3 separate regions of the Homo sapiens genome follow, and regions 1 and 3 are each linked to region 2. Evidence: fine-mapped QTL for protein levels in blood plasma. A gene starts in region 2. Each other region holds a variant in brackets. All regions are shown on one strand. Distances are between the middles of the regions.

Region 1 (8,000 bases), 39 kb after region 2:
TCCCACCAGTTTGAAAAATGTGTATGCTTTTAAATAAGCATTACTTTCTGAAAATATCATAAATCAGTCTCTACATATTGCAGCCAGAAGCAATCATGTTTTCTCATGAATGCTAAAGACTGTCATATCTTGACCATTTGACTGGCATGTTTTTTTTCACATGTAGTCATGTTTCTTATACCTATAAGTCAGAATATGTCAGTTGCCAAAAAATCTGAGGAAATCTTTTGGGCTGTTGGTTTTCCCCAATAATGCCAGGTTAAACTTCTTTAAGCACAGATTTTTGTGATGGAAAGATGACAATTATTTTTAAAAAGTATTACATACATTCTCCTTTCTTAAATAGAAAATACCAAACATGGTCACCTTGGTCATTGCTGATGGGAGAAGGGCTATTGTTGTGTTGATTTAGTTTGTTTGGAGTTTAGTCTGCATTTTACGGTTTTCCTGTCTTCACCACTGTGATCAGCTCTTAGCTTCTCCAGAGGGGTAATAACTTGTACGACATAGAATAGTGACGGCTAGGGGCTGCCCAGGACTGATCTTGAAGCCACGTTTGGAAAGGAAGCACTGCTTTCCCTTATCCATAACCCTGGAAACACATGTGTTTCAGCATTTCAGAATGTTTGGTATTTTAGAAAGGTGATGTGGTGTGATATAAATCACAATGGAGTTTGGAGCAGCATCACATAATCTAACACATCAATATTTCTGTAGCAAAACTAATCTATGTTCATATATGGTGGGAAAAATGAAGACTATAGATACCTTTTACTAGTTCAGGTGAGATTAATACCCCCAAAAGAGTTTGATGTCAAGCTTATTAGAAAGAAGATAGGAATTGTGGACTTGAATATTTATTTGATGCCAACTGGGGCAGTGGGAGTTGAATAGGGGTTGGCTAAGGCCTCCACATCACTCCGTTGCTGCTCCCACTGCTGATAATCCCCTTATTCAAATCTGTTATGGTCTTGGAAAATAAGTAGCCAAACTCATTATTATTATACATAAAAGAACACAAACTTACATGAGGGGAAATATCTACTTTAACTCCTTAGAGATGATTTTTTTCTTTAATTCCTACTACTTAATGAAATATGTCATTTACTTTCTCATGTGTATCAGTAGTACCTGAAGGCAAATTATACATATTATACTTCTTTATAGCTTATTACCAATACCAACTCCATATAATCCTCACCAGTTTTTGTTGGATGAAATAATTTTTTAACTCTTGCCTTAGTTACTTATTGGCAATAATTTATTGGCTTTCATTTTTGACAGAATTATACTGGTCCATCATAACATGGGAATGCACCTAAATAATGACATCTTATTCTCATCCATTCATACTCTCTCATTTAGGGTCTTTTGTCTCTAATGGGCTGTGGTTCTAGAGCCACTCTGCTTAGGTTGAAATCCCACCTCTGCCCCTTAGTGCTGTAAAATCTCAGGCAAATTACTTATCATCATTGTGCCTCAGTTTCTTTATCTATAAAATAGAAATAATAATGCCTACCTCATGGAGATAAATGGGTCTAAATATGTGAAACACTCAGAAAGTCACTGGCATATAGCAAGCCCTCAGTAAATATTAGCTATTATTCATTTTAGAGTATAATTAGTTAAAGACTTAGCCAAAGCTAGGTACATAATTAGTGGTCACACAGCAGGTCAAGACTTACTGACCACTTTATAAATTAGCAGTAATGACCAAGAACAACTGTAGAAGTAAAAAGGGGAGGGGGGAGTGATGATTGCGTTTATAACTTAGGTCCTTTTCTACTTACTTTTCTTTGGTTGTTTCTTCACTTTTGTTGTTGAATAACAATTTGTAAGCCTAAATCAGGTTTCAGGTGTTCATTATAATTCTTCTTAAATCTGAGTCTCCATGAAAATGTAAGATTTGGGAGATGAACAAAAATTTGCAAAATGCACACAGATTATAAGCATAGTTTTCGCCCCAATCCTGCCAAAATCCTGGGTGACTTCAATATCATGTGGACTGCCAAGTATTTCTTGTTGCCTCATAACTTCCTATACCATTTCACTACAGCCACTCTCATTTCTAGCCACCTAACCCTTGGCTTTGTCTTTACCAGAACTTTGCTGTCTCTGAAATTTGAAAATCCAACTTTTAACCCTCTCATCTTATCACAGTTGTCTAACCTCTCAGCTCTCACCCTCATTTATGCCCACAAACCTCTTCTTGGCCTCATCTAGACCTTCAGTCTTTTTGGAATCTTTTTTTCTCCTGGTATATCTTGCTCTTCCTACTTTAAATTATTTTGTTCATCCAAGCTAGATCCATTTTGACTACATTTGCCAATATTAGCAATGTCCTTGTTTCCATTCCTCCTACAATCCAGAAAAACTCTGATTTGGCATGAACCTTATTGTTTTCTGCCCTACTTGTAAACTTACACTGCTGAACACTAAAGAGAATATTATGCTCACACAAAAACAGCTAGCATTATAATTTCAACTGAGTCCTCCACATTGTTCAGTAGGTCTGTAACACCTTCTCAGGCTTTCCTCATTCTCGTTCTTCACATGAGCAGGCTCAATCTTTCAGCAACACCCTCAAGCCTCTTACTCTTACTCACCATTTTGATCCTGGGTTCAGCAGATGACATTAGCTCCAACTTGACAGAGAATACCCAAGTCATAGGCAGGAGCTTTCACAGTTGTTTCTTCAAAGTTATTCTGTGTACTTACTTTGCTACTCAGTCCCTCTTTACATCCTATTCTCTCAGTAGGAAGTTATTCTTTCTCTTCCCTAGCCTGGATCCCACTCCAAGTACATTGCTAGACATTCTGCTAAGCCTCCACTCAACCTTTCCCTCTTTTTCCTTCCACTCTGGCCTTCATATATAAATCTTTTTCAAGGGTCTCATCTATAAAGAAACAAATGAAGAAACCTCTGCCATCTCTATATACCCATGTTGTCTACACTTGCTATCTCAACATATGTGCATTGCATTTATTCCCCACTCTCTGTTATCTTGTGTCTATGCATTTTTCAACCCTCTTCAAGTCTATCTCAAGCTTATTTTGAGCTCCCTTTTGGAGAATCCTTAAATAGTATTGAACTCTTTCCAGAGTTCCTACATTGCTTCACTGATTTCTCT[C/A]TATATATTCTTCTTAAGTGATTTCCTTTTCCTCTTCTCCTATGGCTTCAGTTTTCACTCTATTCTGATTGCATGCAAATCCTATATTTCCAGCCCACATCTCTCTCTGAACTAGATGCTTGTATATCCAGTTGTCTGCCATTGTCACAGAGTCAACATACCTACAGCTGATAACCAATCTTACTCCCAATTTCCTGCTTCTTGCTCTTGAATTCTCTGTCTTGGTAAGTGGAAATAATATCAACCTAGTCATCAAACTCAAAACCTGAAATCCCTCCTTAAGACATTCTTTACAGACTCATTTCCCTCAAAACCCACAATATCCAATCAATCTTCAAGTTCTATTATTATAATCTCCTTTAAATCTGTTTCTTATTCCCCATTCCCACTGCCACTGCCTTAAGCTCCCATCACTTCTCATGTAGGAATGACTCAAAATAGTGTTCTTAGTTTACAGCCTCTAGCTTTTCTCAACTTCAATTCATTCCCCACATTTCAGTGTAAAAATAATAAATCTGATCATTCTCCTTGAAGCTTAAATTTGGTGAGTGTCTATCTATAGCCTGCAGTGTAGTAGTCAATCTCCTTGGCAAGGAGTACAAAGTGATCCCTGATCTGATTTTTGATTGCCACTCCACCCTCAGCTTTCTCCTCTGAATCCTCCATCTTCTAAAATGCTTCTCCTACAAATAAATGCAATATGCTTTGATTTTTTCTCTATTTGGTATATATTTTGCTGTATAATACGTGCTTTTTGGTTGCTATCTCACCCTTTTATTTACCACAGAATACTGAAAAACTATATTGTATACTATGCTAGATAAATGCCTATTGAATGAATAAAAAATTCATGCCAGCATATTAACACTGTAAGTTAATATTTCTAATGATGGCAAAAAACAAATATTTAATTGGAATTGCCATTAAAGTTGACAGCAAAATTGCAAGCAGAGGCTTAATACACATTCCAACTATTCTTTCTACTGACAACTTAAGCCCATTTAGAAAATCTAGCAGCAGATAAAGCTTATTACATACCTGGTTATTTGTCCTATGTTGATGTTTCTCAAGTGGAAAATATGTAGTCTTTCCCTATAGAAACTGCTATCTTGAAAGGGACTCTGTTCTACAAATAAACTCATGCATTCAGGGTTGAAGTCATAGGCAGGGGTTAAATCATGAAGGCACTCATGTGCCATAATAAATACACTGAGCATAGTCCTGAGCATAATGAGGGAGCCACTCCGGAGAGCAAAACCCTGAGAGTTTCATTTTAGAACTTTGTGTTTTGTGGAAATAAATTTTAAGGGAACAAGACCAGAGGTAATGAGAACAGAAGGAGGCTATTTTATGGTCCAAGAAGCAGATGACAAAAGGCTAATCTGGGTCTGTAATAGTAGAGATGAAGAAGAAGAGATAAAATCCAGCATATTTAAGAATTAAGAAATTATTAATAAATTGGAGACAGTATAGCATATGATCAATCACAAGGTTCTGAATTAAGATTCTCTGGGTTTAAATTTTGGTAACTTCCTCCACTTACCACCTATGTGAATTTAGGCAACTTAGTTACATTTCCTGGATCTCAATTTCCATGATAAAATCATATGATAATAGTATACACTTCACAGGGTTTCAGAAAGATTAAATGTGTTAATAACTGTGAAGTGATTAGAATAGTGCCTATCACAAACTAAATTTTCTATAGATGGACCCTATAAAAATGGAAAGAAAAAAAACCCCACACAAACAACCAGTGAATTATAGGCCATCAAAAGAGATGTGGGAAGTTGGATGTGCAGGAAATCTACCAAAGAAGGAGTGGGTTCTAAGAAGATAATGATTCGAATGCTGGTAATTTTGAGTTTGAGGGTCTATATGAAATTAGATGGAGTTATCCTACAACAAGGAGATTATTTGAATCAAAATGGAGAGAATGATCTAAATTGTAAAAAGAGATCTAGGTGTTAATTAACATACACATGATCATTGCATCTTTTTTTTTTTTTTTTTTTGAGATGGAGTCTCGCTCTGTTGCCCAGGCTGGAGTGCAGTGGCGCAATCTCAGCTCACTGCAATCACTGCCTCCAGGGTTTAAACGATTCTCCTGCCTCAGCCTCCTGAGTAGCTGGGATTTGAGGCGTGCGCCACCGTGCTCAGCTAATTTTTGTATTTTAGTAGAGATGGGATTTCACCATGTTGGTCAGGCTGGTCTCTAACTCCTGACATCATGATCCGCCTGCCTCGGCCTCCCAAAGTGCTAGGATTACAGGCGTGAGCAACCGCGCCTGGCGATCATTGCATTCTTGAGGGTGCCTGAGATTACCAAAGAAGTGTACAATGAGGGAGAAGAGAAGAACATAGAGACTGAAGTCCTAGAGCACACAAACGTTTAAGATTTAGGCACAGAAAAAATATTCTATAGATAATAGAGATGGATTGTACTTGTTATCCTTTACTGTCATATTACCCCAAAACTTAATGGCTAAAGGGTTAAGAATGTGACAGTAGCTTGGCTAGATGGTTCTGGCAGAGGGGTGCCTCAAAAGGTTACAATGAATCTGTTGTTCATAGGTTTCTTCTCTCAATTAGTGAGAGATGGCTTTGATAATAATAACTAATATGTGGTTTATGGTTTTATTATCCATTTGTACAAATAAAATTTTAATGACATCTTCAACAGTTTTCTCTACTTACTCTCTATTTACAACTGCTCTCCAAACCTCCACAACTTGAACTCTGAAATATTTCTTGATCGTGTCTATCTCTTCCATTTTTAGTGCCATAAGCAATGTTTATTTCTTTTCAAGGAGTATTATATGAACAAATTCTTAAACAGGATAACTTCAACTGACCCTTATAATATGTCTGGCCTCCTAGAACATGCAAGCCCCTTGATCTTCTCTCTCTGAATCTAGCTTCTCCAACATCTGTTTATTCAGTACTCATAAAGAAACTTGCTTCCATCTTTGTGTTTTTCTGCTTTCTGTAATCTTGCCCCTTGGTCTCTCGTCCAAGACTTTTGCTTTTCTCTCTATGATGGTTACAAGTATTGGTCTATTTCTGAATGCTTAACATTGAGCCTAGACTTCTTTTCGCATGGATGGATTTTTCCATTTCCCAATTCAGCTTTCATTCCTATGCTTTCTGGGATGACTCCATCCTCAGAGTTTCAGGCTGTACTCGCCACTACCATTCTGGCATAGTGAGAAAAGCTACCTTTTCTTGAGCCATTCAACAACATCCTAATTGATACCCTGACCAACAATCTGTTATATCTGAAAGTGGCCCTCTACGCTGCTGAGTTGATAATTGCCTTATGCCATTTCCTTTCTAGTCATTTCACATACAAGTGCAGGTGCCTACAAATTACACCCCCTCTATCAGAAAGCATGGTGCCACCAGTATTGTTCTTTTTTCTCAAGATTGCTTTGGCCATTCGAGATTTTCTGTGGTTCCATACAAAATTTAGGATTGTTCTTTTTATTTCTGTGGAAAATGACATAAAATTATGATAGGGATTGCATTGAGTCTGCAGATCATATTGGGCAGTGTTGCTATTTTAACAATATTAATTCTTCCAATCCATGAATATTGGATATCTTTCCATTGATTTGTATATTTTCCATTTCTTTCATCAATGTTTTATGAATTTCATCATACAGCTCTTTCACCTCCTTGGTTAAATTTATTCCTAAGTGTTTTATTCTTTTTAATTCTGTAGTAAATGGTATTTTTAAAAGTTTCTTTTTTAGATGGTTTGTAGCTAGTGAGTAGAAATGCAACAGACTTTTGCATGTTGATTTTGTATCCTGCAACTTTACTGAATTTGTTAGTTCTAACATTTTTTGTCTTGTTTTGTTTTTTGGGTGGTGTCTTTAGGGTTTTTTACATAAAAGAATATCATCTGCAGACAATTTTACTTCTTCCTTTCTGAGTTAAATGCCTTTTATCTCTTTCTTTTGCATAATTGCTCTAAGACTTCTAGTACTATTTTGAACAGAGATACAATGGGCATCCTTGTCTTGTTCCTGACGTCTGATAAAAAGTTTCAGTTTTAACCACTGAGTATAATGGTCAATGTGGGCTTGTTGTATATGGCCTTTATTATGTCGAGATACATTCCTTCTATACCTAATTTGTTGAGAGTTTTTCTAATCTTTAAATGACGTTGAATTTTATTGACTGCTTTTTCTACATCTATTGAGATGATCATATAATTTTTATCCTTCATTCCATTAATGTGGTGTATCACAATTATTGATTTGCATATGTTAAACTATCTTTGCATCCTAGATATAAATCTCACTTGATCATTGTGTATGATCATTTTAATATATTTCTGAATTTAGTTTGTTTATATTTTATTGAAGATATATATACATATATGTTCATCAGGGATATTGGCTTGTAATTTTCTTTTCTTGCAGTGTTCTTGTCTGGCTTTGATATCAGGGTAATGCTGGTCTTATAAAATGAATTTGGAAATATTCCCTCTTCTTCAATTCTTTGGAATATTTTAAGAAAGTCTAGGATTAGTTCTTCTTTAAATATCTGGTAGACTTCATCACTGATGCCTTCAGATTCTGGGCTTTTCTTTCATGGGAGACTTTTTGTAGTACTGATTCAATCTTTTTAATCATTATTGGTCTGCATTTTCTATTTCTTCATAATTCAGTCTTGATAGATTGTATGTTTCTAGGAATGTATCCATCTCTTCCAGGTTATTCAATTTCTTTGTGCATAATTTTTCACAGTAATATCTTATGTTTATTTATATTTCTGTGGTATCAGTTGTACAGCTGTCCCTCAGTATCTATGAGGAATTGGTCCCAGGACCACTCACAAATAGCTAAATCCTTAGATGCT
Region 2 (8,263 bases):
TTCCCGGAATACGTTTAATACAAAATCTGGGAAAAGATGGGAGCTGCCCCAAAGCCCCTGGTAAATATTTAAGCTATTACGATTTGAGGAGGTTGCTAAACAATAAAACAAATAATTATTGCTGGGAAATGGTATGTTTTGAACTAATTCCCTTCTGCTAAAAATAAAAACTCATGTTCTAGGCTGATATGTACAATATCAGCCTAGGGACATATACAAGGCTATGTACTGGCAGCAGCTCTGTTAACATGTTGTAATTACAGCAACGCTGATGGACAAGGGCCAGCCATTTGTCATCTCACCTGATGAGTGGCCAAGCCCCTCATTTGCCCTTGCTTGGAATTGTGTCCTGCATTTAATTACTAAACCTCTACCACATACTGAAATCATACAAGTGCTTGTCTCCAGCAAGACCATGGTGTGGGCTGCTCAGTGGCAAAGAAGCTGGCCTTCTGCAGAGATGAAAGATGAGGTTGTTAAAAATGGAAGGGAAAAAAAAACCCAACTCTGAAATTCTTTATGACTAATTTTTCCTTGTGATATTGGTTGTGGAGTTTTCTGTCAATTCTTTATTCACTTGGTTGATTTCAACCATTATTTTATCTTACTTACAAGAAAGCAGAATCATTGCTGCTCTAAAAGTTACAGGGTAACATGACTGGGCTGGAATTGAGTAGAGGATGCTTCTCGGGTGTGTCTGATGCTGCCTCCTTAGTGGAAGCTCTAAAATTTCACTGTGGCATTGCAAGACCTGTGGATCTTTGGACAGTCAGTAAGAAACAGCTATGGAATGGGGCAGGCATTCCTAATGAGATCCCTGGATACTAAGATCCCTTAACTTACTGCTAAGGGACTTTCAAGAAACTGTTTCCTTCACTATAAAAGAGTCAAATGGAAATGACCCTCAACATATTTATATCAAATCAGTAAAAATTAAGTGTTTCTGCCTGCTGGTCAAAGTTTTAATGTACATATGTCTATGTTTGCCTTAAAAACTGGGAAAAGTATTATTAAGCAAAAAACTTAGTTCACTATCACAAAGTTCCCAAGAAAATTGAAACTAAGAAGGGAACAAAGGGCAACTGAATGGCGAAAACCCTCAGCAGAGTGGAAAACCCTGGAATCAGAGTTTAAAGACATGGTTTGTTCAAATCTCACCCCTGCCTCTTCTGTGTAGCCTTGCAGGTATTTCTCTGAGCCTCATCTGTGAGACTAGAATAAAAGCTTACCTTCTATGGAGTTGACAGGACTCAGTAACGAATTTTATAGTAAAGTACCCTATAAGCAACATGACGTACTTAAAATAATAACAATAGTAGTAATAGCAAGGTAGGAAAAGCCTGAGATGTGGAGCCAGACATAGCAAGTACAAATGTGCAGTTACTCGTCCCTGGCTGACGCTGGACAAATGATGTAATCTCAATGTGTCTCCATTTCCTCAGCTGTAAAACAGATTATTTTCAGGATTAAATGAGATTGCATATATAAATATGGCCTGACACATATTAGAAGTTCAATAAACATTTATTTTGTTATTTGGAAGCCTTTAAGTGTTATACAAATGAAAATGTTACTATTTTCACTGCTCTAGTCTAATGCATGATGATGCTTTATTTCTCTGACATACACACAGAAACATAAGCCTCATTTCAAAACACCTCAGACACATGATAGATGTTAAGGACAAGAAAGAGTTAAAAGCATAAAAATGTGGAGCATATTATTCATATATTTTATATATTTATATAATATTTATGATTTTATATTATAATTATGCATTATATGTAATATATAATTACATATATTATAATTATATAATTATAATATGTAATATATAATATAATTTGGCTCTGTGTCCTCACTCAAATCTCATCTCGAATTGTAATCCCCACATGTTGAGGGAGGGACGTGCTAGGAGGTGATGGGATCATGGGGACGGTTTCCCCTGTACTGTTCTTGTGATAGTGAGTGAATTATGAGAGCTAATGGTTTGTTTGTTTGTTTTTGAAACAAAATCTCGCTCTTGTCCCCCAGGCTGGAGTGGGACAGAGCGATCTCAGCTCACTGCAACCTCTGCCTCCTGGGTTCAAGCAATTCTCCTGTCTCAGCCTCCCAAGTAGCTGAGATTACAGGCGCCTGCCACCACGCCCAGCTAATTTTTGTATTTTTAGTAGAGATGGGGGGTTTCACCATGTTGGCCAGGCTGGTCTCGAACTCCTGACCTCAGATGATTCGCCAGCCTCGGCCTCCCAAAGTGCTGGGATTACAGGCGTGAGCCACCACGCCCAGCCAGCTAATGGTTTTAAAGTGTGGCACTTCCTCACTCTTGCTCTCTCCTAATGCCATTTACGAAGTGCCTTGCTTTCCTTTCACCTTCCACCATGATTATAAGTTTCCTGAGGCATCCCTAGCCATGCAGAACTATGAGTCAATTCAACCACTTTTGTTTGTAAATTACCCAGTCTCAGGTGGTATCTTTTTTTTTTTTTTTGAGACGGAGTTCCACTCTATCGCCTGGGCTAGAGTACAGTGGTGCAATCACGGCTCACTGCAACCTCCGACTCTAGATTCAAGCAATTCTCTTGCCTCAGCCTCCCAAGCAGCTGGGATTAGAGTCACCCGCCACCATGCCTGGCTAATTTTTTTGTATTTTTATAGAGATGGGGTTTCACCATGTTGGCCAGGCTGGTCTTGAACACCTGACCTCAGGTGATCTGCCCTCCTGGGCCTCCCAAAGGGCTGGGATTACAGGGGTGAGCCACCGTGCCAGCCAGGTAGTATCTTTGTAGCAGTGTGAAAATGGACTAATACAATATATATTGCCAATATATAATTAATATGCTATTAGTATACTTTACTGCTGTCATTATTTTTCTACATTATATTTAACCTGAACTATGGTGATAAAATAAATACAACTGAGCAATTCAGAAAAGCCTCCTATTCAAACTAGTCAGCCAAAAATATCCCCTCACTCCCTCATCCCCCTTCCATTGATTTAGTCTCCAAAGAGACAGGTGATGTACAATCTCCAGTCACATCAACTTATCAAGTCTAATCATCACAACTTCTAATCAATTAGCATCAAATCTAGTTAGTATAAAGCATCCCATCCTGACTGCTTTTCAGTCTTTATTTCCATAAGTATCTTGATAGGGTCCAGAGAGGCCTCATAAGAGCCCTCAACATTGCTACAGCATTTTTCTTTTTGTGAGACAGAGTCTCACTCTGTTGTCCAGGCTGGAGTGCAGTGGTGCCATCTTGGCTTACTGCAAACTTTGCCTCCCAGGATCAAGCAATTTTCATGTTTCAGCCTCCCAAGTAGCTGGGATTACAGGCACACACCACCCCACCCACCTAATTTTTGTATTTTTAGTAGAGATGAAGTTTCACCATGTTGGCCAGGCTGGTCTCAAACTCCTGGCCTCAAGTGATCCACCCACCTCTGCCTCCCAAAGTGCTGGGATTATAGGCGTGCGCCACTGCACCTGCCCTGCTACAGCATATTTGACAGATTCATACTGTTTCCAAATGTAGCCCACCTGTTATTAGCCAAGACTCACAGGAAGTGTCTTTCAGGCATGGACTCATCCCATGACATAGTTACACGAGTTGTGGCATCCATTCGAATCATCTTATTACTTGGCAGTTCTGCATGGCCTACACTCCACAGCAAGCTCAGGAAAAGGTGAGATCAGTCCCATTGAAGACCTCAAGTTCTCTGCATAAAAAGGAGAGGGGCCAAGAAAGTGGGTGAGAGTAGATACCTTTTACCACAGGTAGGAATATCAGTAGAAAAGGTAAGGCAGTACTGGAGAAAATAGCTGTATATTCTGTCTTCCCTCAGCTCCACCCCTTGCTTTGCTGGTCTTTATATGTGCTAATGTTTGAAATTTGCCTATAAGTAATAATAATACTTATAAAGTCCCTTTAAGAACTATATCCAGAGATATCTGATGTCTTTCTTCTCAAGGTGGTCATCCTCAGTCTCAACCCTGGCTACACGTTAGAATGATCCGCAAAGCTTTTAAAAGCATGGATGCAGGGTCTCATCACAAGTCAATTAACTTAGAGCTGAGCAGACAGCGGGCAGCCATCACTACTGTTCTCAAGAGTCCCCAGGTCATTCTATTTTTGCAGTCAGTGCTTTAAGAGCAGTTGTGATGTCCACATTCTCTGGTGTTCCCAAAAAGGCACTGCTCTTCCCACAAGTGCTGGGAAGCATGAAATGTGAGGGGGAGACTATTTTTCATGGGTAGGAACAAGTTTTTCTGTCTCAGATTCTATCTTGTTGACATGTGTGATGCTGAGATAAGGAGACCACTCTTTCTGGTGGACGCCCTTAATGCCTTCGGGAGTTTACATCTCATTCTTCAAAATGTACCACTCGGCCTATAAGGAAAGCCAGGATTGTAAATGCATTTGCTCACGTGGAAATAACCTACCTAGCCCATTTGCAGATTAAAAAAAAAATGAAGCATCTACGTCTGTGCCATCCTTTCCACTAAGTGCAGTTCTTTACTAACTTTGACTTCATGCCTCCATGAGAAGCATCCACAGGCTTTTTTTTCCCCAAAATTGCATACTCCCTCATCTTCCACCCAACCCCTCGAGTCTTGCAAACTAAGAACTGCTGGGGGTCCTTCATTTTTGTTTCTATTTTTTTGTTTTTGTTTTTGTTTTTGTTTTGTTTTGCCGGAATTTTGCTCTTGTTGCCCAGGCTGGAGTTCAGTGGCCCCACCTCGGCTCACCGCAACCTCCGCCTCCCAGATTCAAGCAATTCTCCTGCCTCAGCCTCCAAAGTAGCTGGGATTACAGGCACCCACCACCATGCCTGGCTAATTTTTTGTATTTTTAGTAGAGATGGGGTTTCACCATGTTGGCCAGGCTGGTCTCGAACTCCTGACGTCAGGTAATCCACCCACCTCAGCCTCCCAACATGCTGTGATTACAGGCGTGAGCCACTGCGCCCGGCCTTTGTTTCCATTTTCACACAGCACTGCTGCCCATCTTAGGGACTTTAGCATTCACAGGCCCATTGCCCCATATCTACTTGTCAATATGAGAAAGCAGGAGGCCAAGAATTACAAAATGATTCTCCTTTGGTTGGACTTCAGTACCCAGGCCACCCAAATTGACAAAAACTCTGAATGCAGACAAACAATGCTTGTTCCCTGTCCTCTGGCCCTTTGCAAATAAATGCCTTACCAGACCTGCCCTGCCACCCCACTCGCAGCCACCCAGCAAGAGCAGCATGTCAGCCTGCCGGAGCTTTGCAGTTGCAATCTGCATTTTAGAAATAAGCATCCTCACAGCACAGTACACGACCAGGTGAGTCAGTTACTTTTCTGCTTGTCTCTGGAAGTTTCCTGTAGGATTAGCATCTCAAGGTCTTCTTAGCAGCAAAGTACATGACAATGTTAATCCACATGGCAATATACAGAGCCCTAGAATCTAAACTTCGAAAAGAGATAAGAAAATACATAGGGTGCATCTTTATGAGTTTTCTGTGGAAATGTGCTGCTGTTTCTGGGGATTTATTTTCAACAAGGCACTCAAATGTTAAGATTGAGGTATTCTTTAAATATCTGGAATTATAAAATAAAGCTTGTTTTCACCAGTGTATGATGAACCTGGGTTTATTAGTGCCTGATGTCTGAGAAGTTTAAAATTAAGGAAATTAATCTTTCCCTCACTCTGCTTCAATGCCTGACACCTTTAACATTTGGATACATCACCCTTTTGCCTCCACATTAGGCAAAGGTTAACTATTTTGTTTCTTTCCCTTGACATCCTGAGTTGTGTTCAGAGGCATGCATTTTGTTTAGGGCCATTTGGGATTTAGGTCATATTTCTTCCATTCCAGAATTGCAGTGATGCAGACCTGTCACTCATGCTTCTACCAAAGATACTTTTTCTCCTTTTTCTCTGATCCTAATCGGAATTGCAAAGCCCATGGCAAGTCATCCAGGAAACAAATCACCCATATAATAAGTTTTTATTGAACAGCTACACTGTACCTAGAAATGGTGGAGGTTAGGGTCACATGAGGCATCCTTCCTTCCATCCTGGAGTCATCAGAGTAGACATCGACCTGTATAATTCAATACAGGATGATCCGTTCTGGGGAGAGTACTGAAATATTCCTCACTTCAACAGTGTGGCTGGGGGGAAATGTCTGCCCAAGCCCTGTTCCTCTGCTCAGACATAACCATAACCTGCTTCCAATTCCTCATTAGTCATTTGACTCTTGGTTTACCCAAATGCTGTTTTGAACTTTGATGCCCGTCTCCAGTACATATTTGCCTGCCTCTTGGCTGCAGTTGGAGGCCGCCATTCAGCCTGGGCTCCACTCAACAAGTGGGTTATTCACAGGGCTGTATCTTTCAGGAGGGGGCACCCAGAGGTGCTACACAGATGAACATGGGCCCTGGATCCAGTGCTCGACCAGACCTTTCCTTCATCCCTCCTCTTTCCATATTATCTGTAAAGCATTGTACCATTCAGGAAATATTTTTGTTTAGTGGGCATCTGGGCACAAAAGGGATTTGGAAAGGCAGTTCCTCCAAGTTGCTTTAGCTCCCTTGAACTTCACCTGACCCTTTCTTAAGCTAAAAAATAATAATAATAATTCAAACAACCCACATTCCTAGATTGCAGCTCCTGCTGATCAAAAATGAGAGGCTGTGGGGAAGCTTTGATTGCTTTGAAGTGCGTACCCCCTGGGTCCTGGCCACACTCAGCTGTTTCAGGGAGGACCGGAAAGCCCCATTAGCTGGACCCCAGCTCCAGCAGCTGCACGGCTGAGTTTGGTTTGGTTTCGTGGGCTCCCATTGCTATGCCCTCTTGAGTTTGCCCCGGTTGCCCTGCTCTGAATGCTCTGTGCTTTGCCCTTTGACGGGGGTTGAGGTCAAAACAGAGTGTTCAGAGCCCTCAGTCATGAAGTGAGACGATTTGTTTGAATAATAGCTAACTGAAATTTGCAAAATAACTTTTAAAATCCTCTGAAGCTAGACTTCCCAGGCTCAGGTCAAGGTGCCTTTACTTACCAACAGTGTCATTTTGGGCGGGTTGCTTGGCCTCTCTGTACCTCGCTTCCCTCGTCTGTAAGATGTGGTTTTATTTATGTCCTGGGACTACCATAACAAAGCACCACAAGCTGGATGGCTTCAAACAAAAGAAATGTATTGTCTCACAGTTCTGGAGGTTAGAAGTCTGAAATCAAGGTGTTGGCAGGGCCGTGCTCCCTCCGATACTCTGGGAAGGGTCCCTCCTAGTTTCTGGTGGTGGCCAGCACTCCCTTGTATTTTATTTTTTGGTTTCAGATCATTTCAGTCTATGTGTCTATCATCACATGGCCATCTTCACATCATCTTCCCATTGTGTATGTCTTTATAAAAATGTCCCCTTTTTAAAAGGACACCAGTCATATTGGATTAGGGCCCACCCTAACGATGTCATTTTAACTTGATTACCTCTGTAAAGACCCTATTTCCAAATAAGGTCCCAGTCTTATTTGACACTTAGGACCAAATAATTATCTGGGGTTAGGACTTCAACATACCTTTCAGGGTTGGCGGGCAGGCACAATTCAACTCATCACAATGGTAATGATAGCATCTGTCTAATAAGGTTTTCGTTGTGAACATTAAACAGGTATACATGTAATGTCCTTATGACATCTGTGCCTGGCGCATGGTAAGAACTTAATAAATGCCAGGTATTTAAAAAAAATAATAACCTTCCTGTGCTTTCACTTTGCTATCTTTCTTGTTTAGGACGGAAGGGTTGGAATTACAGCTAGCCTTCAGGGCTCTCCCATGGCTTGAAGACATCTCATGCCACAGCTACAGTGACCTATTATTACTGGAGAACTGTCAGGGATTTCTAACTATTGTTTTTTTCTTTTTTCTTTTATTTTTTTACAAAGATTAATGTGCCCATGAGAACTGGCCATGAGGGGGACATCATCTCTTATGTTTCTCAAGGTAGAGCATCAATGTTTAAAACCACCATGAGAGTAGAATAGTAGCTCAGAGCGTTGCTTCTGGAGCCAGGTGGCCTGGGTTCGATCCCAGCTCCACAATTTACTGGCTCTGCGCCTTAAGTAAATTCCTTAACTTCTCTAAACCTGTACCTCACCTGCTAAATGGGAATAATAATGTGTCCTGCTGTGAGGAATACCTGAGATAACAAAGACAACATGCTTAGCACAGTGCCAGGCAAACAGGAAGTGCTCTGTGAGTGTAGCTATCATTACCTT
Region 3 (8,230 bases), 77 kb after region 2:
TATCATGAGTTTATAGTGTATGTATATTTTACATACATATTTTTAAATTTTTACATACACTATAAACTCATACTACAATGCGACAACATTTGCTGTAGATAATATATGTTAGAGCAATTAAAACTAGAAAGGTATATTTTTGCCTTCATTTTAGTTATGCTCAGAGCTCATGATTACTTTATGTAGGTCCAAATTTTAGTTCTTTGTGGTAATTCTTCTGCCTGAAAAATTTCCTTTGGCATTTCTTTTAGTGTGCATTAGCTAGTATCAAACTCTCTTGGCTTTTTCTTCTCTGAAAAAAAAAGTATTTTTTTCAATGACATTTCATTAGGTATAAAATTCTATGTTTACAGTTTGTGTGGATTTTTTTTTGTTTTGTTTTGTTTTTGTCTTTCAGTACTTAAAGATATTACCCCTTTGTCTTCTGGCTTGCATAGTTTTTAAATAAGCAGTATGCTGTAACTCTTATCTTTGACCTTCTGCTTGTAGCATTTCCCTTTGTTGTCATCGCCTTGAAGATTTCATTTTAATCTTTGGTTTTCCACAGTTTGAATGAGATGTATATTTATTCTGCTTGAAGTTCCCTAAATTTCTGGAGTCTATGGTTTGATTATTTAATTACTTTTGAAAAATTCTTGGTCATTATATCTTCAAATATTTCTTCTGCCACAATCACATTCTCTTTCTCTCCCCCTCTCAACCCCTTCTTATAACCTCTTCACTTTTTTCAAGGATTCCAGTAACACATGTGCTAGTCTCTTTCATATTGCCCCACACTCTTGGATGCTTAGTTCTGGGTTCCCTCCCTTCAATTCTTTTATCTCTTTGCACTTTAATTTGGCTAATTTCTACCACCCTTTTATCAAGTTTACTGATTCTTTCTTTTGCTGTGTCAAATCTACTGACAAACTCATCAAAGATATTTTTCATCTCTTTTATCATGCTTTTTATTTTTTACATTTCCATTTGACTCTTTATAATATTATTGATTGTATCTAGTAAAGTCAAATTTAGTCTACTTTCAAAATACTAAGGCTTTTTACTAAACTGTTTTTAAGATTTTCTCCATTGTCTTTGGGTTTTGTTTTTTTAGCAATTTTTCTCTGATAATACCTAGCTGCAAAATTATTTTTCACCGTAGTTTTTATTCATAAGATATCTTGTTGTTTTTCACCAGGTCTGGAATATTCTCAGTCATTAGTTTTTCAAATATTGCTTCTTATTTATTCTGTCCTTTGTTCTCCTTCTGGGGCTCAAAATATATGGATCTTTTCCCTTCCCACACTATCACTTATGTTTCCTTCCCTCTTTCTGTATATCCTATCCTTTTGTCTCTTCATGCTTTATTGTCAATATTTTCTTCTTACCTATATTGCAATTCATTAAATTGCTTCAGTTTTATCACATTTGCTATTTAACTAATTCACTAATTTGTATTCTAATATTTGTTTCTTTTTTTCAAATCTATTTTTAATAACTTCCAGTTCTTTGCTAAAATTTTCAGACTTGTCTCTTATCTCCCTGTTTATGCAAACAGTTGGTTTAAAGTCTGATAATTGTTTGAAGTCTGATAGCACAAACATTGGCAGCCACCATAGCTGTTTCTATTTTCCATAATTTCCACTGGTCTCATTCATGTTGTGTTATTTCCTTGTGTGCCTAGTTATTTTTACTGTGGGCTAAATACTGTACGTAAAATTATTATAGGAGTAGCCTGATGCCTGGGGTAATTTTGTATATTTCAAACATATATATTTATATTTGAAAAGCTTCCAGCATCCCCACTAATGATCCAAGATTATTTTAATCCAAACTGGGCTGCAGTTTCTGCCAGAGCTATCCTACTTCCACTTCCCTCTTAGTCCCCAAATCAAAGGATAGCATGTCTACCTTGGTTGATCTGAATTCCAGTGTTTTTTCCTCAGCTCAGTAATGTGTTGCTCTACCTCCTAGTCTCTCTACTAACTCTTGCTGAATTAGGAAATGTGTCAAGAGGACTAGTAGCCCTAGAATACTGGGCCCACCTCTTGGATTTCCACCTCCTCCCAGATCTTAGATCAGTGATTTTTTATTTTCTTATTAGTTGTCCAGGGCATTTTAGCAGTTTTAAAAAAAAATGTTTGGTTTTATTTTGTTTAGCTTTCCTCATTGTCCTTAGGGAAAAGATGAGTCCACATTATTTAATCCATCATTATTCTTCTGCAGGAATTTGTGGGGTTTTTTTGGTTTGTTTTTTGTTTTTGTTTGTTTGTTTGTTTGTTTGTTTTAGCTCTGGGCTCTATAGATTCTCATTTCTTTTAAGTTTTGTGGTCTCTTGTTTTAAAGTGCTCTGCCACCAAAGTGCCTCTATTTCTAACAGTTTATTCACTCAAACAGCTCTTGCTAGTTACACAATTGAATTTGCTTAAATTAAGTGAACATATAAATTTCCCTGTATATGTTATGATATCTCCATTATAAGAACTTTTTAATTTTTTTCTATGATCATCAAGCTGCACAATAGATCTTCTGAACTTACCCCTTCTATCTAACTACAATTTTGTATCTTTGGAACAACATCTTCCCAACTTCCTCCTCCATTTAAAAACTTTCAAAATTCTTTACTGTATGCCTGAAATAGTCTTCTCTCTGCCTTGACACCTTCAAATCTCAGCTCAGTATTTATTGTCAAAGCTTTCCAAACTTCCTTGATTTCAGTGTAGCAACTGTGTATCTTACTGCAGGAATTTGAGTGTGCCAAATAAATACTTTTACTTCATTTTCTTTACATCTAATTAAATGTGATTTTGAGATCATGTCCCTCCATGTTGCTAGAAAATTCACCTTTCATTTACTTGTTGGATGGGGCTCAGGAAATTTTTTCCCTGCTGTCTAAATTGGTATAAGAATCCTAACACTTCCATCTGGGAAATGGAGATATAATTTACATATGCCTTTAGTTCATCGTAGTTACCTCAATAACCTTATTGTTCAGGCTCACATGTTCACTAGAAGTCAAATATTTCCAAGCCCTCCATGCCAGGCTTGCAAATGGAAATCACTGACAAGACTGGATTCCTGATACTTCATATGCAGCTTCCTCAAGGCACCCCATAGGTCCTTCTATCTCCCAAAATAGCTGCTAAATATCTAGCTATGGTTTCCTGTTACTTGAGGTATATACTAACTTCTATCCCCTTTCTATTCTGGAGGAATCTCTTTCCTTGGTGGCATTCTTCTATATTCCTTCCCTCTACAAAAATTTCTCAATGAATTTAGACTTTTAGAGGAAAAAAAAAACAAGAAAGAAATTAGAAAAAGGTTGCCTTCAGGGGCATTCTGGACTTGGCCTTGCACACAAACCTCCTCTTAGGCAAGAGATAGCAAGCATCTGGTTACCTTCTGGAAGAGAAGGAAGAAGGCAGCAAAAACAATTCACAAAATATGTCAATAAATTATCAAGCCAGAAGTTTAAGTCCCTCAGTTGTTCATTTTTAAAGCACATATACCTGTTTTTTTTTTGTAGCACCTATCACACTTTCTATTTGAAATTTATGCATCATTATTTTATTAATATCAGCCTCCTTAACTCCGTAATATGACCTCCCTGATAGCAGTCATCTTGACTAGTTTTGATTGTTTAAAAGCTAACATCACATCTGGCAATACTATACATTCAATAAGTCTTTGTTGAATTAATGAATCAGTGAATGAATAATTAAGTAAAGTGTATTCTACAAGTTCTCTCAGTTAAAAAGGACCTAAAATTAAATGTTTTGCTTCCTTTCAGCTGTCTCCTA[T/C]ATATAATCTGGTTCCAGTGAAAATGAAAAATGCACACCTAAAGAAACAAAACTTGGAAAGAGCCATTGAAGACTATATCAATGAATTTAGTGTAAGAAAATGCCACACATGCCAAAATGGAGGTACAGTGATTCTAATGGATGGAAAGTGTTTGTGTGCCTGCCCATTCAAATTTGAGGGAATTGCCTGTGAAATCAGTAAACAAAAAATTTCTGAAGGTGAGGACAATTTATTTGATGTGATTAAAGACAAAAATATGCACTTTGGGGTTATCTAATTTGAAAACTAGCTCTTGAATTAATTTGTACTAAATCTCTAGATTATTTATATAAACAGAAGATAAAGATTGAGTGAATAGTGAAAATGGGTAAATCAGCCTTTATGTGTCATTCTGACATATTCTACTTGTATATATTAAGATAGAATTATAAATAAATAAATTATAATTATTGTATTACTCTTTATAAAAATATTCTTATAGAAGGTTTACAGAAATACAACAAACATCAGGTATTCACTATATAGAATTGATGAATGTTAATACATATATATCATATACACTTTGCATATATATGTGTTTATGTGTATAGACGTAGACATATATACTTTAAAACCCTTTTTTAAGAAGCAACAATAATACATCCAATTAATTACTTTGTACCACATCCCCGCCCCCCAAAAAAATTCTATTGCCTTTTCTCTCTTCTACTACTCAGATACAGTCACTTTCATTAAGTTGGTATGTATCTTTCCAGTTCATATTTTTGTGCTTGTACTAAATATGTATGTACCAATGAAAAATATGTGATATTGTTTTGTATGTTTTTAAATTTTATATAAATGATATTCACTAGATTTTTATTTTGCATTTTTAACTGTATTTGTGTTTTTGAAAGCTGAGATTCTGTATTGTATTTTTAAGTTAATCATAAGGAAACATTATTTTACATTAAAAATATTTTTATTATGAATTTAAAGGGTACATGTGAAGGTTTGTTACAAGGATATATTGCATAATGATAAGCTTTGGGCCTCTGGTGTACGCATCACCCAAATAGTGAACATTGTACCCAACAGGTAATTTTTCAACCCTCATCCCCCTCCCATCCTCGCCATTTTTGGAGTCCCCACTGTCTATTATTTCCTTCTTTATGTCCATACATACCCATTGTTCAGCTCCCACTTATAAGCGAGAACATGTGGTATTTGATTTTCTATTTCTGGGTTATTTCACTTAGGATAATGACCTCCAGCTCCAACCATGTTGCTCCAAAAGACATGATTTCATTCTCTTTCATGGTTGAATAATATTCTATGGTACATATGTACCACATTTTCTTTATCCAATCATCCATTGATGGACATGAAAGTTGATTCCATGACTTTGCTATTGTAAATATGTATTGTAAATATGTGCTATTGCACATCAAAATATGTGCTGCAGTAAACATATGTGTGCAGGCATCTTTTTCATATAAAGATTATTTTCCTCTCGGTAGATACCCAGTAGTGGGACTGTTGAGTGGTAGTCCTATTTTTAATTTTTTGAGAAATCATCTCTATTCTCTTACCATATACAAAAATTAACTTGAGATAGATTAAAGACTTACATGTAAGATCTGAAACTATAAAAATCCTAGAGGAAAATCTAGGAAAAACTCTCCTGGACATTGGCCTAGACAAATAATTTATAACTAAAACCTCAAAAGCAAATGCAATAAAAACAAAAATAGACAAATAGGACTCAATTAAACTATTTTACTTCCTACAAGTAAACATGACTTTAGTCATGTTTCTAATCCTAAGAGTTTATGCTTAGTATTTCATTCTGGTAGAATTATTCAGACTCCTAATAGATTAGTGAGATCTTAGTCCAAGTGTTAATATCACAAGATTAGCTATTAAGATTAACTTTCTATGGCAATCATTGTTTGAACAAATACAGTTTCCTGAAACAAAATTCTAAAACAATTATGTAGCCAAAGTTCACAGCCTCGTTTATCATTCAACCATATTTTCATCTCTTACAATATAAATTTTTAATATTTTATGAATTTTTTACACTTCTCAGCAAATGGCTTAGAAACTCAATCATGTGGTGACAAAATATGTAAGTTAGAATTTAATTTAAATTTTAGAATGATTGATTTATAAATGTATGCTAACTCTGTCTCTCATCGGTCTAAAGTCTCAATCTAGTGCTTTGCGTTCCAAAAAAAACTCTCACTCTCCAAAAATGTATACTACTTGGTACTTGGAACGTCTATTTTCTACCTATTTCTCTCTATGTAGAATATTCTGCTGATTTCTCTGTGATTTCTTTAGTTCTAGCTTTTAATTTTCCAATTATTTTATTCAACTTTGTATAGTCGATCCATTTGCTGACCTATTGAGATTATTTTAAAAGTATTTTTCTAAAATTTTGATTTGGTTCTTTTTCAATTTTCTTTTGTCTAGTTTTTTCTGTTGTCTAGTCTACTGGATTATTTTCCTACCTTTATAGCTTTCAACATGTTAAATATATCTTCACGGAATTCTTTCAAATTGTTCCAGTATATATTGTTTCTGCAGTGCAATTCTCTGCTAAGTCTACCAATTCATTCTCATGGCATATTATGCTTTCTTCAGTACTTAGTGATTTTTTATTACAGGCTTAGTTTTTGGTGGGAATTATTTCCTGTGGAAACCCGTCTTCCCTGGATAATGAACATATTCTTAGGGTTAGTTTGTTTCTTAGGAGGTCCTATCATTTTCATCAGTCTTGCACTAGATTTTTATGTAAAGTTCTTGGTTCGGGTTCCATATGTTGTGTTTCATAGATAATGAATATCAAGGTCCCTTCCCCAATATAAAATTATCTTTGATCACTAGGCATTGTTTGGTTGACCTTTCAAACCTGACCCAGGATGGCCCACAGCTTCTTGCTGAGACATTAGACATTTTCTTGTTGAATTTTTCCCTCAAGGTAGATCTTCCAAGCATCCATGTTGACATAGAATGTTCTAGTTTCCAATTTACACTAGCTTACACCCATGATGAGATTGAAAACCGTAACACATCATCTTTCTTTTTCTATACCATTTACTTAGCTTGAAATGCTTCCAACTTTCTCTCCCTCAACTAACCGAACCTCCTTCTCCCTTATTCCTTGTGTGCGTTTCTACTCCTAGACCAATGGCTCTCAACCAGGTTGGTCATTGGATTCATCTGGCTCACTTCCTTAAAGGAAAAAAAAAAAAAGAAACAAAACAAAACAGATGTCTATCCTAAGCCAATTAAACAAAAGCAGCCATGGTAGATCCTGCCTGGGCATGGGTTTTTTGTTTTTTGAATTTTTAAAAAATCTACTGGTTATTCTAATCTTTAGCCAGGGTTAAAAACCTCTATTTTGAACCCAGTCCAATTAGCATATCTTTGATGAAACCTTCTCCAATTTCTCCAGGAATCAGTTCTCTATCTATGCTGCCTGAGAACTTTCCCTCTGTTTTTCCAGCACTAATCACATTGACTCTCTGTATACAAGACAAATAGCCCTTTCTGGTATGAAAATGTGCCTTGTACCTTACACCACATTCTATTCCCAGTACCTAGACAGTATGGCACAACGTGGTGCAAGAGGATAAGAAGGTGAAAAAGCGGATGGGTGGATGGACCCAAAGTAAAATCCTATTGATGATTAAGATTTGATACTTATTTGTTTTCTCTAGGATTGCCAGCCCTAGAGTTCCCCAATGAAAAATAGAGCTGTTGGCTTCTCTGAGCTCCAGTGGAAGAAGAAAACACTAGTACCTTCAGATCCTACCCCTGAAGATAATCTTAGCTGCCAAGTAAATAGCAACATGCTTCATGAAAATCCTACCAACCTCTGAAGTCTCTTCTCTCTTAGGTCTATAATTTTTTTTTAAATTTTTCTTCCTTAAACTCCTGTGATGTTTCCATTTTTTGTTCCCTAATGAGAAGTCAACAGTGAAATACGCCAGAACTGCTTTATCCCACGGAAAATGCCAATCTCTTCTAAAAAAAAACAAAATTAAATTAAAAACAGAATGTTGGTTTAAAAAACTTCAAAGTAATTTTCAAACGGCTTTGTATGGTTAACATATTCTGCCAGGTCCATGACCACACGTCTGTACCATGCAATTTAACTCTTATTTACATTGTTATGTTTAGTTTGGTTATTTGCTTAGGTGTGCATACATTCATTCAGCAAATGCTGAGCACCAGCCACGTGCACAGCAGTTGCTTTTACTAGTCTTAGCTCTACGATTTAAATCCATGTGTCCAAGGGGGAAAACATATTATATTTGTAACCAAAAACTACTAGTTTACCAGAGGACTGAAGGGAGATAAAGAGGAGTTGGTTAATGGGTACAAAAATCCAGTTAGATGAAAGGAATAATATAGATAGTGTTCAGTAGCAGAATAGAATGAACATAAACTATTAGTTTAA

Alleles and levels. Positions count from the first base shown, and alleles are read on the strand shown. Strength reflects both the effect of a copy and how common the allele is.
For the plasma level of the protein whose gene starts at base 5,224 in region 2, C is the high allele of the variant in region 1 and A is the other (moderate association).
In carriers of allele C in region 3, the plasma level of the protein whose gene starts at base 5,224 in region 2 tends to be lower than with T alone (weak association).

The links. PIP is the posterior inclusion probability: the model's chance that the variant is causal. The UK Biobank Pharma Proteomics Project read protein levels with antibody pairs (Olink). The fine-mapping took linkage between variants from a reference panel, not from the people measured, so its PIPs are less certain.
Region 1: its variant is fine-mapped to the plasma level of the C9 protein (UK Biobank, PIP 0.98).
Region 3: its variant is fine-mapped to the plasma level of the C9 protein (UK Biobank, PIP above 0.99). The variant lies in the coding sequence of C9. If it changes the protein, the assay may bind it differently, which can mimic a change of level.

Annotation. Positions count from the first base shown.
Region 1 is chr5:39,322,918-39,330,917 of GRCh38, reverse strand. All of the region lies in intron 5 of C9 (complement C9), which reads left to right. Among named protein-coding and RNA genes, the nearest start is that of C9, 38 kb to the left of the region's middle. The variant C/A (reference allele first, on the strand shown) is at 3,132.
Region 2 is chr5:39,361,456-39,369,718 of GRCh38, reverse strand. It overlaps C9 (complement C9), which reads left to right and starts at 5,224. Exons shown (of 11, transcript NM_001737.5): 1 at 5,224-5,331. The coding sequence starts at 5,255.
Region 3 is chr5:39,284,491-39,292,720 of GRCh38, reverse strand. It overlaps C9 (complement C9), which reads left to right. Exons shown (of 11, transcript NM_001737.5): 10 at 3,770-3,998; 11 at 7,488-8,230. The coding sequence ends at 7,522. Among named protein-coding and RNA genes, the nearest start is that of FYB1, 69 kb to the right of the region's middle. The variant T/C (reference allele first, on the strand shown) is at 3,780.